5 linked regions of the Homo sapiens genome follow. The protein of the gene in region 2 interacts with the protein of the main gene of each other region in a biochemical or structural test. Each region holds a gene or a part of one and is shown on either strand. Other genes may lie near its edges.

Region 1 (2,920 bases), on a different chromosome or scaffold from region 2:
CTCAGCTGCTCTATAATTCCCCTATCCCGTCTGTAGTTAGAGGGAAGCCATGTTTTAGCCAGTCATTGTGAGAAGAGGTGAGGTGTGTCCCTCCTAGGAGAGGCAGGCAGGCAGCCGGCGCCCCCTCCATGTCTCTTCCTTGCTCTGGAGACTTTGGAAAGCTACATTTTCCAGATAGTGTAGTTATAAGATGGAGGAAGATTGTTGAACTTACATGCTACTTTATGTGAATGAGAAATAAACATTTATGGTGTCTAGCCCCTGAGATCTTGAGGGTTGGTCTGTTACAGCTATGCTTAGCAGTCATCACCCTCATTCAGGACAGAAGTTTTGGTCAGTAAGAGACAGGCCACATCTACTTCAGAGAATCACAGAAGAACTTACATCAACCTCTCCTCTCAGGAATTTTCTGTGAGTTGAGTTCTACCCATTCTGCTCAAGGTTTTATTTTGATTGGAAATCTACTGTCTTAGTGGGAAGGAGACAAATCATTCTAGTCAAAACACTTCCTTTTGCTACAAAATGCATTTATTTCCAGTCAGACAAAATTCTTGAACTGTATATTCGGGTACATATTATAAGGTCATCTTTGATATATGCCCTGTTTACAAGATCCATTTCTAATTATTAAAGTGAATATCAAACACACATCTTTGCATCTTAAAACATAAATAAACTGCTAATGTTTATAAGCCACAAATCTGGTCACTGACATGAGTGGCCTGCAATTCTTCAGTGATGAGCACACGGCGATACAGACAAGATCAGATTACCCAGGTAGGCAGGCAGCAGGCACCTGTAATTCACCCGCTGACTGTGCTGTTGTGGCAGTGACCCTTCTTGTGAAAAAAGAGTTATGTGCAGACAAAAGTGTGACATATGCAACGTGGAGAGGCATTTCACAGAATGCAAACACCATTCAGGTAAATTAGTAGACTCCAGAATGAATGAAAGCTTCATGAATGCAAACCTGTTGTTTACAATACTGGGCATTGTGGCACCTTTTCACTGGACAGTTTAATAAATATCTATTAAAGAAAGTAAGGATAAGAGAAGAAGCTGAAGCAGTCGTCTTGGTGCACAACATATTTTCAAGATTGGGCTTTAGGTTGTGAGTTTCAGAGATACCATTGTTTGTTTCTTCAGAGTAAATCATTCTATTTGGAAAGCCCTTCATTTCCTTAAAAAGACCTTTAAATTCTTCATTAGCATTAAGAGACTTCTTGTAGACTGCCAGGAATTGGGGTTCATTGGCTTAAAGAAGAGCACAGCACAGTTGACAGAACGTCTTGGTTTGTCTCTTGAATTAAGAAGCCTGATTGGCTCAGAATTTCTCAGATCTACTTTATTCTTCACACTTTCCCTCCTTTTGGCTCCTGTTAACATCCCAAGCCCACAGAGACAGACGCTCATAGGTGGAGCGGTATACTTCATAAAATCTCATTTCATTATCAACTATTTCTAGTGCCATGGCTCCCTCTGGACTCTAAATAGTTGATATCTGAAAGTTCCATCCTTCACAGAGTTCTTCACTTGCTCCTTGAAGGTAAGGTTCTTGTTCTAAGGCTGATGCTGGGAAGGTCCCATAGAGGAAATTCCTGGAGAATCTCTATTCCCTTTGGGTTCTCGTGCCCTCTCTCTCACTCCCCATAAGGCTATGGTTGCAATTCTGGAGACACATAGGAAAAGTTTCTAAACTCATCCTGGTTAATCATTGGAAGATGTCCCTCATCAATTGGAGTTAAAACTGGCTCTTCCTTTATGAAGTCAGGGTCAAAATTACTGACATCTTCTCGGGATTTCTGCCAAAAAAAAAAGGGAAACAAGGGTGAGATTTTTGCGCTTGAGGCTTACTCATCTTGCATGGGATATAGCCCATTCCAGTGAGTTCAGAGGAGTGCTCTGTAGCTTGTTCAGTAGCATTATTTACAGTTATTGTTATGATGAAACTGTGCTTTACAGCAAGTCTACTGCATGGTGCATTATTATGGCATTTGGCAACCACCAATTCACTAATCCCATGAAAATCTTGCTGAGCAGGCCTGTCTTAATGGGAGGCTAAGAATTAATTTGGTCATCCAAAAGCAGCTGGCTCACTCACCCTTTATTCTCATTTCACCAAGGTGGCATTTCACAGCAGGCCTCGCTGAGGGGTGTGCAGCTGTATTTGTCAACAGAGGTTGGGTAGGTTCACACTTGTCCTACCTATTGTTTGCGCAGAGTTCTAGACATTTGAAGAGATCTTCCCAAAAGATTTCTTGCAAGTGCTGAGCTTAGGGAACAACTGTTGGTCATTTTACTCTCTAGGTAGATGCGTTACGCCCTGCTGGACCAGCTGTGCAGTTAGGACTACAGGCTCCAGCCTCTGAAGGCCATGCTCTCCCTAATCCCAGGGGCGCTGGCAGGGGGCTGACCATTGAAGGAACGGCTTTACCTCTGGGTGCCTGGTGTCCAACAGCCTAGTAGGCTGTTAGTGATTAAGTGCACTGTATGTTTTTAAAAGTTGAGTATTTTATATCTGTATAAACAAACGCTGCAAAGATCATTTCTAAGTGAGTATCACACATCTCACTGCTCTTACCTTAATCAATGATATTTCTCTATCACTTTTTTTTTTTTTTTTTTGAGACAAAGTCTAACTCAGTTGCCCAGGCTGGAGCGCATGACGCAATCTCGGCTCACTGCAATCTCCACCTCCTAGGTTCAAGCAATCCTTCTACTTCAGCCTCCTGAGTAGCAGGGATTAGAGGTGTGCATCACCACACCAGGCTTTTTTTTTTTGTATTTTTAGTAGAGATGGGGTTTTGCCATGTTGGCCAGGCTAGTCTCAAACTCCTGACCTCAAGTGATCCATCTGCCTCGGCCTCCCAAAGTGCTGGGATTATAGGCATGAGCCACCACGCCAGGTCTCCCCATCACT
Region 2 (2,660 bases):
CACACTTTGTTCTGATTCTCACACTCAGGCCCTTCTCCCCCCATAGTGTGTGAGCACCTTGATGCCAGAGACCATCTTCCTCTCATCTTTGCAGCCTCAGTACCAAGGGCCATTATAAGCACAGCGCAGATTTCATGGAGTGGCTGAATGATTTGTTTGCTGTGTGATCACCTGTACTGAGTCAATATCGGTCACCTTTGGTCATGAGCATGCCCCTTGACCCAGATTCCTGCAGGAGCCTGCATATAGGGGCCCTGCTTGCTGGGACTGGGGATGGGGGTGGGGTGGGGAGTTCAAGGGAAGGCAAGGTCTAGGATATAAATCCCAAGGGCGTGGGCTCAGCAGGGCCCGTTCTCATGCTTTCTGGCCCGGGAGGAGTGATTCTCCATCTGGCAGGCCCAGCTGCAGTGCTGGGACAGGGACATGAGCAGAGGCCACAGGAGGAGAGAGGGAGGTTGTGGGGGGAGCTCGGGGAAGCCCATGGTAACCCGGGGGGAGGAAAAACAGCCACACAGTGTTATTGTTACAGAACCATTAAATACAACTTATACACAAGCAAGCTGGGCGGCGTCCGGGGGGCAGGGAGAGTGCAAGAGGGTCAGGGGTGAGCAGTCCGGGCCCGGTCCTGGAGGGGGCTGAGGCTGCCGTCGTGGGAGGGGCTTGGCTGGCGGAGGCCGGGCTGCCTGTGGAGGCCTTGAAGCTTTGCCAGCAGCTCCTGGATGAAGTCCTGAGACAGGGTGGGGGAGCTGAGAACATGGGAACAGTGCGGGGGCACCCTCTGCCCCTGTCCAGCCCAGTCCCTGACCTGGGCGCCTCCTCCTGTTCTCTGATTGTGGGGTGGGGGGAGTTAGGGGCGGAGGCTATAGACATAGAGAGAAAAGTGAGCCGGGAGAAAGACAGAGATGGGGAAAGGGCGATGGGAGGGATGGAGAGAAAGAGCTAGGAAGAGAGATAGAGATCCAAGGAGACAGATACGGAGTGGGGGAGGGGGAGAAACAGACACAGAAACAGAGAGACATGTAGAGATAGAGACAGAGAGAGACATAAGGACAGAGAAAGAAACAGAGACATGTGGAGACAGGTCCCCAGAGATAGATCCAGGGCGAACAGAAATGCAATGACGTTTGTCCCTAGAGCTAGTTGGAGAAACATGAATAGTTTTCCCTTTTAAAGCAGGGAAGGAAGTGGGAGGGGTTGGGCCGCTCAGCTTCAGGGCCTGGGAGGATGGAGGGCCCCCAGAGGTGGGGAAGGGAGCCCGGGGTGGCGGAGGCAGTGACAGGGGAGGACAGAGGGAGACTGAGCCCGAAGGCTGGTGGCCAAAGGACAGGCACAGGAGAGGCAAAAACAGGGCAGATGGGGGAGGACAGAATGGAGCCCCCTCAGCAGATGGGGGAGAGAGGGAGAGAGACAAGTAGGAGGACAAAAGACACCCCTGGAGACCAGAAAGAGCTGCGGAGGGCAGGTTGGGGCCGGGGGTGGTGGGGCCGGGTGGTGTTCCCCAGAGACCCTTCTGCCAGCTTCTTCCCCCTCCCCCATCAGAGTACTTGGGGCCAGAACAGGGAGAGAATGAGGGAGAGAAAACTCACCTCGACAGGTTTCCCACATGACTTCAGGAGTCCCTAAAACCCCCAACCAAGAACAAAACAAAACAGTAAATGACTAACACCTACTCCCCTCCAGCCCCTTCCCTTTCCCAAAAGGCCCCAGCAGCAAGACAAATGGAAGTCAGACTCCAGGGTGGACTGCCCACCAAGCTTCAAGAGAGGAACAGAGCCCAAGGGGCATGTGGATCGACTCAGGGCAGGGGTGAGTTACTAGATCCAGAGAGGGCGAGAGGGTCACACAGCACTTCCCTCCTCTAAAAAGGTATAAGCCATAAGCAAAGACATGGCTGCCAAACTGCCTGGGTTCGATGCCCAGCTCTGCTCCTTCTGAGCTGTGTGACACTGGGCAAGGGATTCAACCTCTCTGGGCCTCATTTTCCTCATGGGGAAAATGGAGCTCACACTAGCGCCTGCTTCGGAGGGTTTTGTGAGGGTTAAGTGAGTGAATACATGTAAAGCCATCACACCAGTGCCCGGCATCTAGTGAGCACTCAGTAAACACGTGAACTATTGCTATTATTTTTAGGGAGGTGCAAAGTGGGAGGCTGGGGGACACGTCCCCCCACCTACCTGGATTTTCCGGCTTCTCTCCTCTTCACTCTCTAACTCCAACAATTCATCAATGTTGATCTCATCGGGCATGTCTGCCTCCTAGGGCCAGGGAGGGAGGGGTGCTTAGGATCCCCTTCCCTCCCTCCCTCGCCTTTGTCCAGGGCTCTGCAGGAGCCCCACCGGCCCCAGGGCCCAGCTGGCGGGTTCTGGAGCATTAATGTGGCAGTCCGGGACAGCACTGCCAAGACGGGACATCTGGGTGTTGGGGGGGAGGGGTGACAGATGGGCTGAGAGAGCCCCGGGGCCCTGTACCAGCCCGATGCCTGGGCCCATGGGCCCCGGGAGCCTCGGGGCTGGCACGGGTCTCTCGCCTTGGCTCTAGTTCCCACAGAGGAAAACAGGCCTAGTGGAGTCCTGGAATGTCAGATTCTGGGATTCGGGAGAGGAGCTGGCTTCTGCCCTTTCAAGGAAAAGTCTTAGCACTAGGTGCAGGGGAGGAGAGGC
Region 3 (3,522 bases), on a different chromosome or scaffold from region 2:
TTCTTCCTTTCTTTTCCCAGGGCACTAGGATAAAGACATGTCCAGGCAGACACCTCTTACTGGGTCCTACTATGAAGCAGTTCCCTGAAACCAGAGGCAAACCAGGAAGGAAGTACAAAGGGGTCCAGGCTCTTTCCATGGTGTACTTACCGAAACAATCTGGCTTCGTATTTCTTGCAGATGATTTCGAAGTACCTTCATGTCCTTTGACCCAGAAGCCCCAGCATCCAGAACAAACAGCTTATTTGAAATGTGAAGATCATTTCCAAACCTAAGGGAAGAGCAGCAGCCTCCTCAGCAGTGAGTCAATGTCCCCAGGCCTTTTAATGGAGGGGCCAGGCTCCTACTGGCTCAAGAGGCTGGTAGGAGGGAAGGAAAGTTCTGGTGTCCTTGCAAAGGCCCCTCCCCATCCCTGCTGTTGGTGGGCTCTGCCTCATCACAGTGGGTGCAGAGACTTGGGGAAACTGGCATATAGTCTGAGTCATAGGAGCGGGACCTTCAGGTTTGCATGAAGCAGCAGGAGCACAGCATGGAAAGATGTCAGCTTCTCCCGAGGCAGGAAAGGTGAGGCCTAATGCTCGCACCTTACAAGTGAGGACAAGAGATACTGTGGAAAGTGGAGGGACTAAGAATAGAGGTGTGAATGCAAAAGCTACATCACTGACCTAAAAATATTAATAGAAGCCCCATTTTTATATCTGGCAACAGATATAGTGTCTCAAGACAATAGATAAATGTCTCAAGTTGATAATGCAAGATCAGAGATACTAGCATATTATAGAAAGCTGCAGGTTCAAACTGTTTTGATAGACTCTGAGTAAAAACATATATTTTACATCATAATCCTGTACATACCCATACTCATCAGTGAAACAAACGTTTTACAAAATAATACTTGACATCTGATCTATCCTATCCTGTCCTGTCCTTTCCTGTCCTATCCTATCCCATTCCATTCCATCCCATTTTAAAAAGAATTGGCCACGACTTCCTAAATGAATTTTAAGACTCACTAGTAGGTTGCAACTTATATTGTAAGACATACTGATTAGTGTTTCTGAACACTGAATACTGAGTACTGAAATCTAAACAGCTAAAAGAAGTCACCTCCGGGCAGTGTTGCTGGGAGGTAGAAAGAAGGGGGTTGCTTTCATCACGTGCTCTTCATTTGTATTTGATTTACTATGTGGATTCATTGTTTTAATAAAAATGAAAAATAAAGGTTGTGCATCCCTAATCCAGAAATCTGAAATGTTCCAAAATCCAAAAACCTTTTGGGCAAAGACAAGACATGCAAAGGAAATGGTTATTAGAGCATTTCAGATTTAGAATTTTTGAACTAGGATGTTCAACTGCTATGTATATGTACATATATTAAAATCCAAACAAATAAGAAATCAGAAACACTTCTAAAGCCGATCATTTCCAATAAGGGATACAAGACCTGTACAAGAAAAGAGTTGACCAAGAAAGAAAGACCTTTAAAACCTTTCTCTGGTTCATGAGACTTCCTTTGTACTTTTCACACCTCTGCTTCAGTTCTCAGGGAGAGGAGGCTACCCGTGAGCTGGAGACTAAGTGGCTGCCCCTCACCTGTTCCTAATCTCTTTCAGCAACGATGTGTCTTTGTCATATCCAAACTCGCCTCCAGCCGGTCGAGGAACATTCATGATGTCAGCGTGGGTGGCCACCAGGACAACTTGGAGTGGGTTCTTCAGCTTGCCACCGAAGGCTGGGGGCAGAGAGGGAACTGCTTCAGGGGGTGGGTCCTCCTACCTGGCTGCCTCTCCTGCCCAGGTGAGGGCGGTGTGTTGGCCTCATGCCCAGGCCGACTCTCCAGGTACAAGTGCAACATGCCACAGAGATGAAGGCCCCACGCCTGCTGTGCACTGTGACCCTAGAAGGCCCCAGCATGGCCAACGACAGGATAAGCCTATCTCCTAGGCCACAAGGAAAATTGCTCAAAGTGGACCAGAATGACTAAAGGCAGTTTCTCAAGTCTCCAAATAGCCCCTACTTACAAGGAGAGGGAAAATTTAACCTGTGACAAAAGGGATGCCGCTTACAAGACCAAAGAGAGACGCCTGAGTGCAGCAACACCACAGAGATGGGTCAGAGGTAAATGACCTGCAAGTCACACAAAGAGCCTCCCACTTCGGGGAGTGTTTAAAACAAAGGAAAAAAAGGACAAAGAAAGAGGCAAAACTGGCAGTACCCAGAGGGGCATTAAGCCCAACTCCTTGTATTATATGCTTTTCCGGAAAGAAAAAAAATTGACTGCTGAGTATTGCATTTCACCAGGGAAGGCTGCTTCTCTTGTTGTGGGCAAAGACCAAAGGAAGTTTATTTCATGTTATCCTCTCCTCTAGGAATAAAGTTAAGATAACACATTCAGTCAACATGCTCCCTTTCTTCATTTCTCTCTCTTTTTTTTTGAGACAGGGTCTCACTGTGTCACCCAGGCTAAGTGCAGTGGCACGATCTTGGCTCACTGCAGCCACAGCCTCCCAGGTTCAAGCAATCCTCCTGCCTCAGCCCCTGAAGTAGCTGGGACTACAGGCACATGCCACCACACCTGGCTAAGTTTTTGTATGTTTTGTAGAGATGAGGTTTTGCCATGTGGGCCAGGCTGGTCTTGAACTCCTGAGCTCAAGGCATCTGCCCACCTTGGCTTCCCACAGTGCTAGGATTACAGCCGTGAACCACTGCACCCGGCCTCTTTCTTTGTTTCTTAGTGGAATTACAGGATGAAGAACTGCTCATTCTGCTGACTAATTCTGTACCCTTTAGGTAAAGGTGCAGTAGCTATCCAAGCAGGGATTCCATTTTGCACCCAACATACAATGACCATGGCTCTCAAGTGTAGAAAAAAAGTGAGAAATGCCTCTCAAAGGATTGTTCAAAGTGGGCCTTTGAGGCAGGAATATGCAATCATGAAACAAAAACAGCCTGCAGAATACCACGAACACTTGAGCCTCATGAAGCTTCTCAGAGTGGAAGTCTCCCAGCAGGAAGGAGAAAGGAAGTTGGCTCAGCTGTTAGCCACAAACGGTGGGATCTGCTCATGGCCTGGTGCAAGGCCAGCAGCAGCAGTGGCAGGAGCAGGGCAGAAGCCTGGAAGGAGGAGGCGATTCCTGGCCAACCACAGGTAGGACATCACTGGCCTGCAGGGACTTAGCTCACCTATGGGTTCTTCAACTGGGACAAGGGACTTCAGGAAACTGAGCCAGAAAATCACTTGGTTCAGCTGGATCTCATAGGGCTCTTCTAGACTAAAGACAACAACATGGATTGACGTGGGATCATTTGCAGCAAAATAGTCATAACAGCAGAAATACACAGGATTTCCAGAGAACTCCCACACGCTGAAATCGCCAACTCCTACAGAAAAAGAAAAATGATAACAATCGTGAAACACCACTAACCAAATTTCAATCATAAATTCTCTTAGCGTTCCACGGATTCGAAGTAGGCATAGTGATACTTATGGCATTCTTCTGTATGTGTATACATCTTGTTATG
Region 4 (3,522 bases), on a different chromosome or scaffold from region 2:
CCACATGGTCCAAAGTAATACACCTGTGGGAGACCTTCACCTGAAAGCAGAGGGGAAATGGGGGTATACAGTGGGAGACACAAAAGCCAAAATATGAGATAACAGTATTAGCACTGAATAAAATATTTTTAAAAGTACAATTTGTGAGATTTCCATTTTCTTTCATAGTCCCTACTGGAAACTCAAACTGAGCACAACAGCTTCAATGGGAACTAATAATGATGGGAAAGGCTAAGTCATTGCACAATACGTTCAAATGAGTAGTTATTTAATACCACAGTGCCAAAAACATTTCCACTGCTATAAGATAGAGAATGGTCCCTGATCCATTGGATCTTCCCAAAAGGATGCCTGAAAGTGCAGTATCATAAAAGGCTCAAAGGATGGCTCACTGAGCTCAAAGGCCAGGCTAACATAACTTGTTACATTATCTGGTTCATGAGCACTCTCTATGCTTACTGCCATAGCCACATGGGCTATTTGGAACTGTTGCCCTATGGACAACTCAGACTGAAGAGGCAAGGTCACAGAGCGTGCAGCCTGGCCCCAGGCCAGCACAACTGGCCCTCTTTTCACAGGGAGTCTCTATAGTTTTTTGTTTTTTATCAGCTGGAGAAAAGTCAACAGACACTTAGTGTTTGGTTGCTGATAAGTGCTGATGAAAGGAAAAGGGGGAAAAAACACAAGGCTGGGTTTTCCCCAGATTTGAAATTCATAACTATTAAGAAGCCAAAATCCAGACTTTCTCACCTAAGTGGCAAATTGTGAATGAATTTCCTTTATAAAGTGCATTGTAAATATGAGGCATTCACTAAATATATAACTGGTACCATGAGAATAGTAGATATTAAATAGGATTACAGACGCCAGGCGCAGTGGCTCATGCCTGTAAGTCCAGCACTTTGGGAGGCTGAGGTGAGTGGATCACAAGGTCAAGAGTTTGAGACCAGCCTGGCCAACATGGTGAAACTGTCTCTACTGAAAATACAAAAATTAGCTGGGCATGGTGGCACGCACCTATAGTCCCAGCTACTCAGGAGGCTGAGACAGGAGAATCGTTTGAACTCAGGAGGCGGAGGTTGCAGTGAGCTGAGATGGCGCCACTGCACTCCAGCCTGGGTGACAGAGCGAGACTCCATCTCAAAAAAAAAAAAAAAAGATTATAGAACACTTAAAAAATTATCTGGTTTCACAGAGCAGAAACATTCCCATCTTATATATTTATGTATATAGTGGTCTACAGTTGCATATGTTGTAGATTATTGTTTGCTTCTGCCTCTAAGTGTTTTAACTTGAGACAAGGTCTCAGTGTTACCCAGGCTGGAGTGCAGTGGTAAGATCTCGGCTCGCAATCTCTGCCTCCCGGACTAACGCGATCTTCCCAGCTCAGCCTCCCAAGTAGCAGCTGGGACTGTAGGCTCGCTCTACCACACCAGACTAAATTTTTGATTTTTTATAGAGATGGGGTCTCACTATGTTACTCAGGCTGGTCCTGAACAACTCCCAAGCTCAAGCAATCCTCCCTCCTTGGCCTCCCAAAGTGCTGGGAATACAGGCATGAGCTACTGTGTCCAGCCCCATTCCCTTTTTATTTCTATGGGTGGGATATAGACAGATGTACATCTAACACATACTTCTCTCGAGGGTAGGTCTCACATATTTGGAATTAATAACTATTTCATATATTGTATTAGTCTATCTTGATTCATTAAATCCTAAACAACTTTTTTTTTTTTTTAGACAGAGTCTCATTCTGTCACCCAGGCTGGAGTATAGTGGCGCAATCTTGGCCCACTGTAACCTCCGCCTCCTGGGTTCAAGCAATTCTTGCGCCTCAGCCTCCCAAGTAGCTGAGATTACAGGCATGGTGTCCACCAATTTTTTTTTGCATTTTTTGGAGAGACAGGGTTTTGCCATGTTGGCCAGGCTGCTCTCGAACTCCCGACTTCAAGTGATCCATCCACCTCAGCCTCCCAAAATGCTGGGATTACAGGCGAGAGCTACCATGCCCGGCCTAAATCCTAAACAACTTGAACATTTTCTTTAAATATGTTTATTCCTAGCTTGTATCCTCTAACATATGTTACTCCTGCTAGTTCAATAAATATCTGTTCAATTGTTTTTGTTGTTGTCTTGATTCTCCCTATCTCCAAAAGAGAAAAGGATTTAATTTGAAGTGTTTTTTTTTTTTTTTTTTTTTACATGGAGTTTCACTCTGTAGCCCAGGCTGGAGTGCACTGGCGCCATCTCGACTCACTGCAACCTCCGCCTCCCGAGTTCAAGCCATTCTCCTGCCTCAGCCTCCTGAGTAGCTGGGATTACAGGTGCACACCACCACGCCCAGCTAATTTTTGTATTTTTAGTAGAGACAGCGTTCCCCCATGTTGGCCAGGCTGGCCTCAAACTCCTGACCTCAGGTGATCCGCCCGCCTCAGCCTCCCGAAGTGCTGGGATTACAGGCGTGAGCCACCACACCAGGCCCCAAAGAGTCTTTTTTTCCCGGTTGTTTTGAAGAAGTCATTTTTCAGCTTTTTAAAAATATATAAAACCCAACTAGTTGTTTCCAATGACTCCTGCTGAGACATCCAAAGCAGAACACTCTGTCCTAGAGATTTACTGCTTTTATTAATCAGACACATGGTAAATGCAGTTTGGGGATCTTTTAAATTTATGTCCTATATAAGGATTTAATGCCACTAAAATGTTATTTTCCTAATATAAATATTATATTCTTCAAAGCAGGTTGTGGCAGCGCCTGTTGTTTGCATGCCCAATATCCATTCTCCCTCTCCTTTTTTCTTTTGAGACAGTGTCTCACTGTGTCACCCAGGCTGGAGGGCAGTGGTATGACCATGGCTCACTGCAGCCTCGACCTCCTGGGACCAAGCAATCCTCCTGCCTCAGCCTCCCAAACAGCTGGGAGCACAGGCACATGACACCACATCGGGCTAGTTTCTTAAATTTTTTCCAGAGATGAGCTCCCACTATGTTGTCCAGGCTGGTCTTGAATTTCTGGGCTCAACTGATCCTCCTGCTTTGACCTCCCAAGTGCTAAGATTACAGGGATGCCTCTCCCCTTCTTTTTTTCTTTTTCTTTTCTTTTCTTTTTTTTTTTTTTTGAGACAGAGTCTCGCTCTGTTGCCAGGCTGGAGTGCAGTGGCACGATCTCAGCTCAATGCAACCTCCACCTCCTGAGTTCAAGTGATTCTCGTGCCTCGGCCTCCCAAGTAGCTGGGATTACAGGCACGTACCACCACACCTAGCTAATTTTTAAATTTTTAGTAGAGATGGGATTTCGCCATGTTGGCCAGGATAGTCTCGATCTCCTGACCTCGTGATCTGCCTGCCTTGGCCTCTCAAAGTGCTGGCATTACAGGTGTGAGCCACCACGCCCAGCCTCCCCTTCTTTTAAAATAACATAACTTTTTTTTTTTTTTTTGAGACAGAGTCTTGCTCTGTTGCTCAGGCCGGAATGCAGTGGCGTGGTCTCAGCTCACTGCAACCTCCGCCTCTTGGGTTCAA
Region 5 (3,522 bases), on a different chromosome or scaffold from region 2:
AATTTTTGTATTTTTTGTAGAGATGGGTTTCCACCATGTTGGCCAGACTCTCGAACTCCTGGCCTCAAGTGATCTGCTTGCCTCAGCCTCTCAAAGTGCTGGGATAACAGGCGTGAGCCACTGCACCCAGCTGAGTTATTCCTTAAATAAAGAACCACTATAGTGGACCTTAAGAGACTATGCTTTTAAATGCCCTTGTTACTTAGAGACTGGAAGCAGGAATAACATAGAGCAATTGTTTTCAAACTCCAGAATTCCTAGGAGATTTCTTAAAGGATAACTTGCTGGGCTGGGGGTAGAAGTTAGGGGAATATGTTCCTCATGCTTATTTCATGCCTAAGGCCCGAAGGCCAGCTACATTTTCATGGTTTATGAGAGTTTCATGTAAGATTTGTCTTGAGCACAAAGTTTTGTATTAAAAAAGAAAAACAGATGTTTTCAAGATGTCAAAGAGCAAAAAGAAGTCTGTGTTCTGTGAAATGGCACTTTTCAGTAGCAATACAGATGTACTGCCTTGGAAGTGTATTTCTAAAAAGCAGTCAATGACATGTGATGTGTTTTATGAAAAGCCTAATTTTTCAAGTCCATGTTTATGTGATAATTTGTATGACCATTGTCTCTAATGTCACTATAAAATTTTTAAAAGATTTTAAGTTGCTTTTACAAAAAATAGCTACAATACAAAATAAGGATTAAACAAGTTTAATTACAGTTCTTTCCCCCGCCCCAATGAAACTAACTCAGTGGATCCAACTTCTCATCTTTAAGACATGGATAGGGCAGGACACAAATTCTGCTTGTTTATTGAATAAGAGACACACAGTAAACTAACAAAGAAACTAACTTAAAATAAGGTAATTCTTTCTGAAATCTGCTGAATGCCTGAAGTAAAATGTTCTAGGTCAGAAGAGATTTCAATCTAATTTTAGTTATAGAAACTGCAACTTGTGATGATCCTATTATCCCAGCTAGCTTTCGGCAAAATTGGTTTCATTTTGTGAGAAAAAGCAAATATACTATAGGTTGTCAGGTGTAACAAGTCCTTGGGTTAGAGACTCTGTTTGGTCTTACCTAAAATGGTAGGACTGTTTTTCAGTGACATTAGCTACATAACACATTATGAACTTCTTGGCACTATGATTAGTTATACGATGATTAAAACACTCAAAAGGAGCAACTATCCCAACTGAGATGCAGAGGCAGAGCACTGTGTGAACATTAGGGTTTGCTATCCTGAGTTTACATGTCACCATCTGAAAAACCCAACGACAATAAACCTTCAACTTTGAATCCTTCCCAAATACAAAAACATGGAATAGAAGCATCTCAACTTCATTCCTAACAGATGAGCTGCTGGGATGAGGATGACATCAGTTAATAATATTTCTTGAAAAGTATCTTCAGATTAGAATCTATTTTTAAATTATAAAATAGTTTAAATACAACACTAAAAATGTGAAGCAAAGATTAATCTATAAAGGCCAAGTTCAGACTAGGGCAGTATTCAGAAATTTAAAAATTAGAAACCAAGAGCCAAATCTTACTTGCCCACTACTTCCAGAAAGTAAGCAGGTATCAGGAGGTAAGCCCCAGAAATGGGAAAAGAAAGACAAAACATGAAAATGGGAGTTAAACTGTATAGCAACAGTGTGCCCTAACAGTTCTACTCCTTACAGGCAGTAAGAGTGCCAAAGAAAAGTAGAAAGGAAATAAGACTAGCGGTTTCAATGGCATTTGCCCCAGTTACCTTCAATTTGCAAGGCCTGGCTGCAGACTTCAATTCCACATTAAACCCTGGGAGCCTGATATTTGCAACATTGTGAAAAATCAAGCCAAAAACAAAGAAATCGTTTTGAAATTAAGATCATACGTAAACTGCAAATAAAAGAATTATTTTTGTGACTAGAAAAGATGTGCTGAGCTTTGCATTTATTTGAGCATTTAAGAGAGAAAATGAGATGCTCTGCAACTGAGAAGATAGACACTTTGGGGGTAATGCCAAACTCACCTCTTGAAATTACAACATGTTCACAATTTTCCATTTTAAATGCTAAAGCATTAACATGCAAAATAAAAAATCTTAACATTGTTAGTCTGAAATAAAGTCAAAATATGGCTAACCAAATTCATTATTAGAAATCAACAAGTGTTAGGTCTAGGATTTTGGATTGATTGATTATATTATATTCCCAACACCAAATTTTTGGAAAGGGGGTTAATGAATGAGTAAAAAAGATGCAGTTGTTAAAAAAATGACCCAAAATCCCAAGAGAAATGATATAAATATACACACATATATGTATATACAAATACATATACATATATATGAACAAGGACATTTGGGTTTAAAGTTAGTAGTCAAATTTTCCAAGGACGTCTTTTTTTTTTTAACGCAGAGCCAAATTTTTATGTATTTTAAAACCACCTCCTTGATCTAACACTGTTAGAAATGAATTACCCAATTTTGTATTCAATTTTTTCCCTGTAACGTCACTTGGTTCTTGGCTACTAACCTTTCATGTTACTCTTGGTTTTGTCAGTTTGCTTGCCTGTGGGGGTTTGGGCCTGCTGACCCTGCCCACTGGAAGAGGCTGCCTGCTGTGCTGCTTTCTGCTTTAACATTGTCCAATCAAATGTGTAGTCATATTGATGGTTCAGGGTCCTGGAACACATAAAATATTTTATGTTAATCCTTTAATAACAGAGTCCAGTTATATAACCTACTAACTTTTTAAGACAGTGACAGCATTTCTTTACACAACGAATATTTCCTCAAGTGTGGCAGCTTCTAAAATATTTCTTATTATAGATGAAAAAGGCAGCATGAAAACTGAAACATGAAATCAAGCTGTCAGTTATCTAGGGGAATACTCATAAGAGGAGGTACTTCCTAAAAACAAGTAAGAGTAAATATTCAACTGGAAGTTTGGGAATAAGATGTCTGACTGGTACCTGGGGAAGACACTTTTCTGGGGTTAAAAGATTACCTGAATTCTCTCTTTTTTTTTTTGAGACCATGTTTTGCTCTTGTTGCCCAGGCTGGAGTGCAGTGGTGCAATCTCGGCTCACTGCAACCTCCGTCTCGCAGGTTCAAGCAATTCTCCTGCCTCGGCCTCCTGAGTAGCTGGGATTACAGGCGCCTGCCACCATACCCAGCTAATTTTTGTATTTGTAGCAGAGACGGGGTTTCACCATGTTGGCCAGGCTGGTCTCGAGCTCCTGGCCTCAGGTGATCCACCCCCATCGGCCTCCCAAAGTGCTAGGATTATAGGTGTGAGCCATTGCACCTGGCAGATTACTTGAATTCTTTGTTTTTCTCTTTTGAGACAGAGCCTCATTGTCACCCAGGTTGGAGTGCACTGGGGGGATCTCAGCTGACTGCAACCTCCGCTTCCCAGGTTCAAGAGATTCTCCTGCCTCAGCCTCCCGAGTCGCTGGGATTAAAGGTGAGCACCACCTCACCCGGCTAATTTTTGTATTTTTAGTAAAGATGGGGCTTCACCATGTCGGGCAGGCTGGTCT

Evidence for each region.
Region 1: the proteins of PPP1R14A (region 2) and PRKCH form a complex in vitro, tested with the Homo sapiens proteins (one study listed by BioGRID).
Region 3: the proteins of PPP1R14A (region 2) and DAPK1 form a complex in vitro, tested with the Homo sapiens proteins (one large-scale study listed by BioGRID and IntAct).
Region 4: the proteins of PPP1R14A (region 2) and CSNK1G1 form a complex in vitro, tested with the Homo sapiens proteins (one study listed by BioGRID).
Region 5: the proteins of PPP1R14A (region 2) and CSNK1A1 form a complex in vitro, tested with the Homo sapiens proteins (one study listed by BioGRID).

The regions. Positions count from the first base shown.
Region 1 is NC_000014.9:61,548,567-61,551,486, reverse strand, and holds the end of PRKCH (protein kinase C eta type), read right to left. Parts: intron 1,803-2,920; coding exon 1,656-1,802; 3' UTR 511-1,655; downstream 1-510. UniProt on the Homo sapiens protein: Calcium-independent, phospholipid- and diacylglycerol (DAG)-dependent serine/threonine-protein kinase that is involved in the regulation of cell differentiation in keratinocytes and pre-B cell receptor, mediates regulation of epithelial tight junction integrity and foam cell formation, and is required for glioblastoma proliferation and apoptosis prevention in MCF-7 cells.
Region 2 is NC_000019.10:38,250,720-38,253,379, forward strand, and holds the end of PPP1R14A (protein phosphatase 1 regulatory subunit 14A), read right to left. Parts: intron 2,256-2,660; coding exon 2,175-2,255; intron 1,620-2,174; coding exon 1,587-1,619; intron 728-1,586; coding exon 599-727; 3' UTR 518-598; downstream 1-517. UniProt on the Homo sapiens protein: Inhibitor of PPP1CA. Has over 1000-fold higher inhibitory activity when phosphorylated, creating a molecular switch for regulating the phosphorylation status of PPP1CA substrates and smooth muscle contraction.
Region 3 is NC_000009.12:87,696,866-87,700,387, reverse strand, and holds part of DAPK1 (death-associated protein kinase 1), read right to left. Parts: intron 3,382-3,522; coding exon 3,184-3,381; intron 1,733-3,183; coding exon 1,594-1,732; intron 272-1,593; coding exon 151-271; intron 1-150. UniProt on the Homo sapiens protein: Calcium/calmodulin-dependent serine/threonine kinase involved in multiple cellular signaling pathways that trigger cell survival, apoptosis, and autophagy.
Region 4 is NC_000015.10:64,216,674-64,220,195, forward strand, and holds part of CSNK1G1 (casein kinase I isoform gamma-1), read right to left. Parts: intron 41-3,522; coding exon 1-40.
Region 5 is NC_000005.10:149,502,934-149,506,455, forward strand, and holds part of CSNK1A1 (casein kinase I isoform alpha), read right to left. Parts: intron 2,663-3,522; coding exon 2,514-2,662; intron 1-2,513.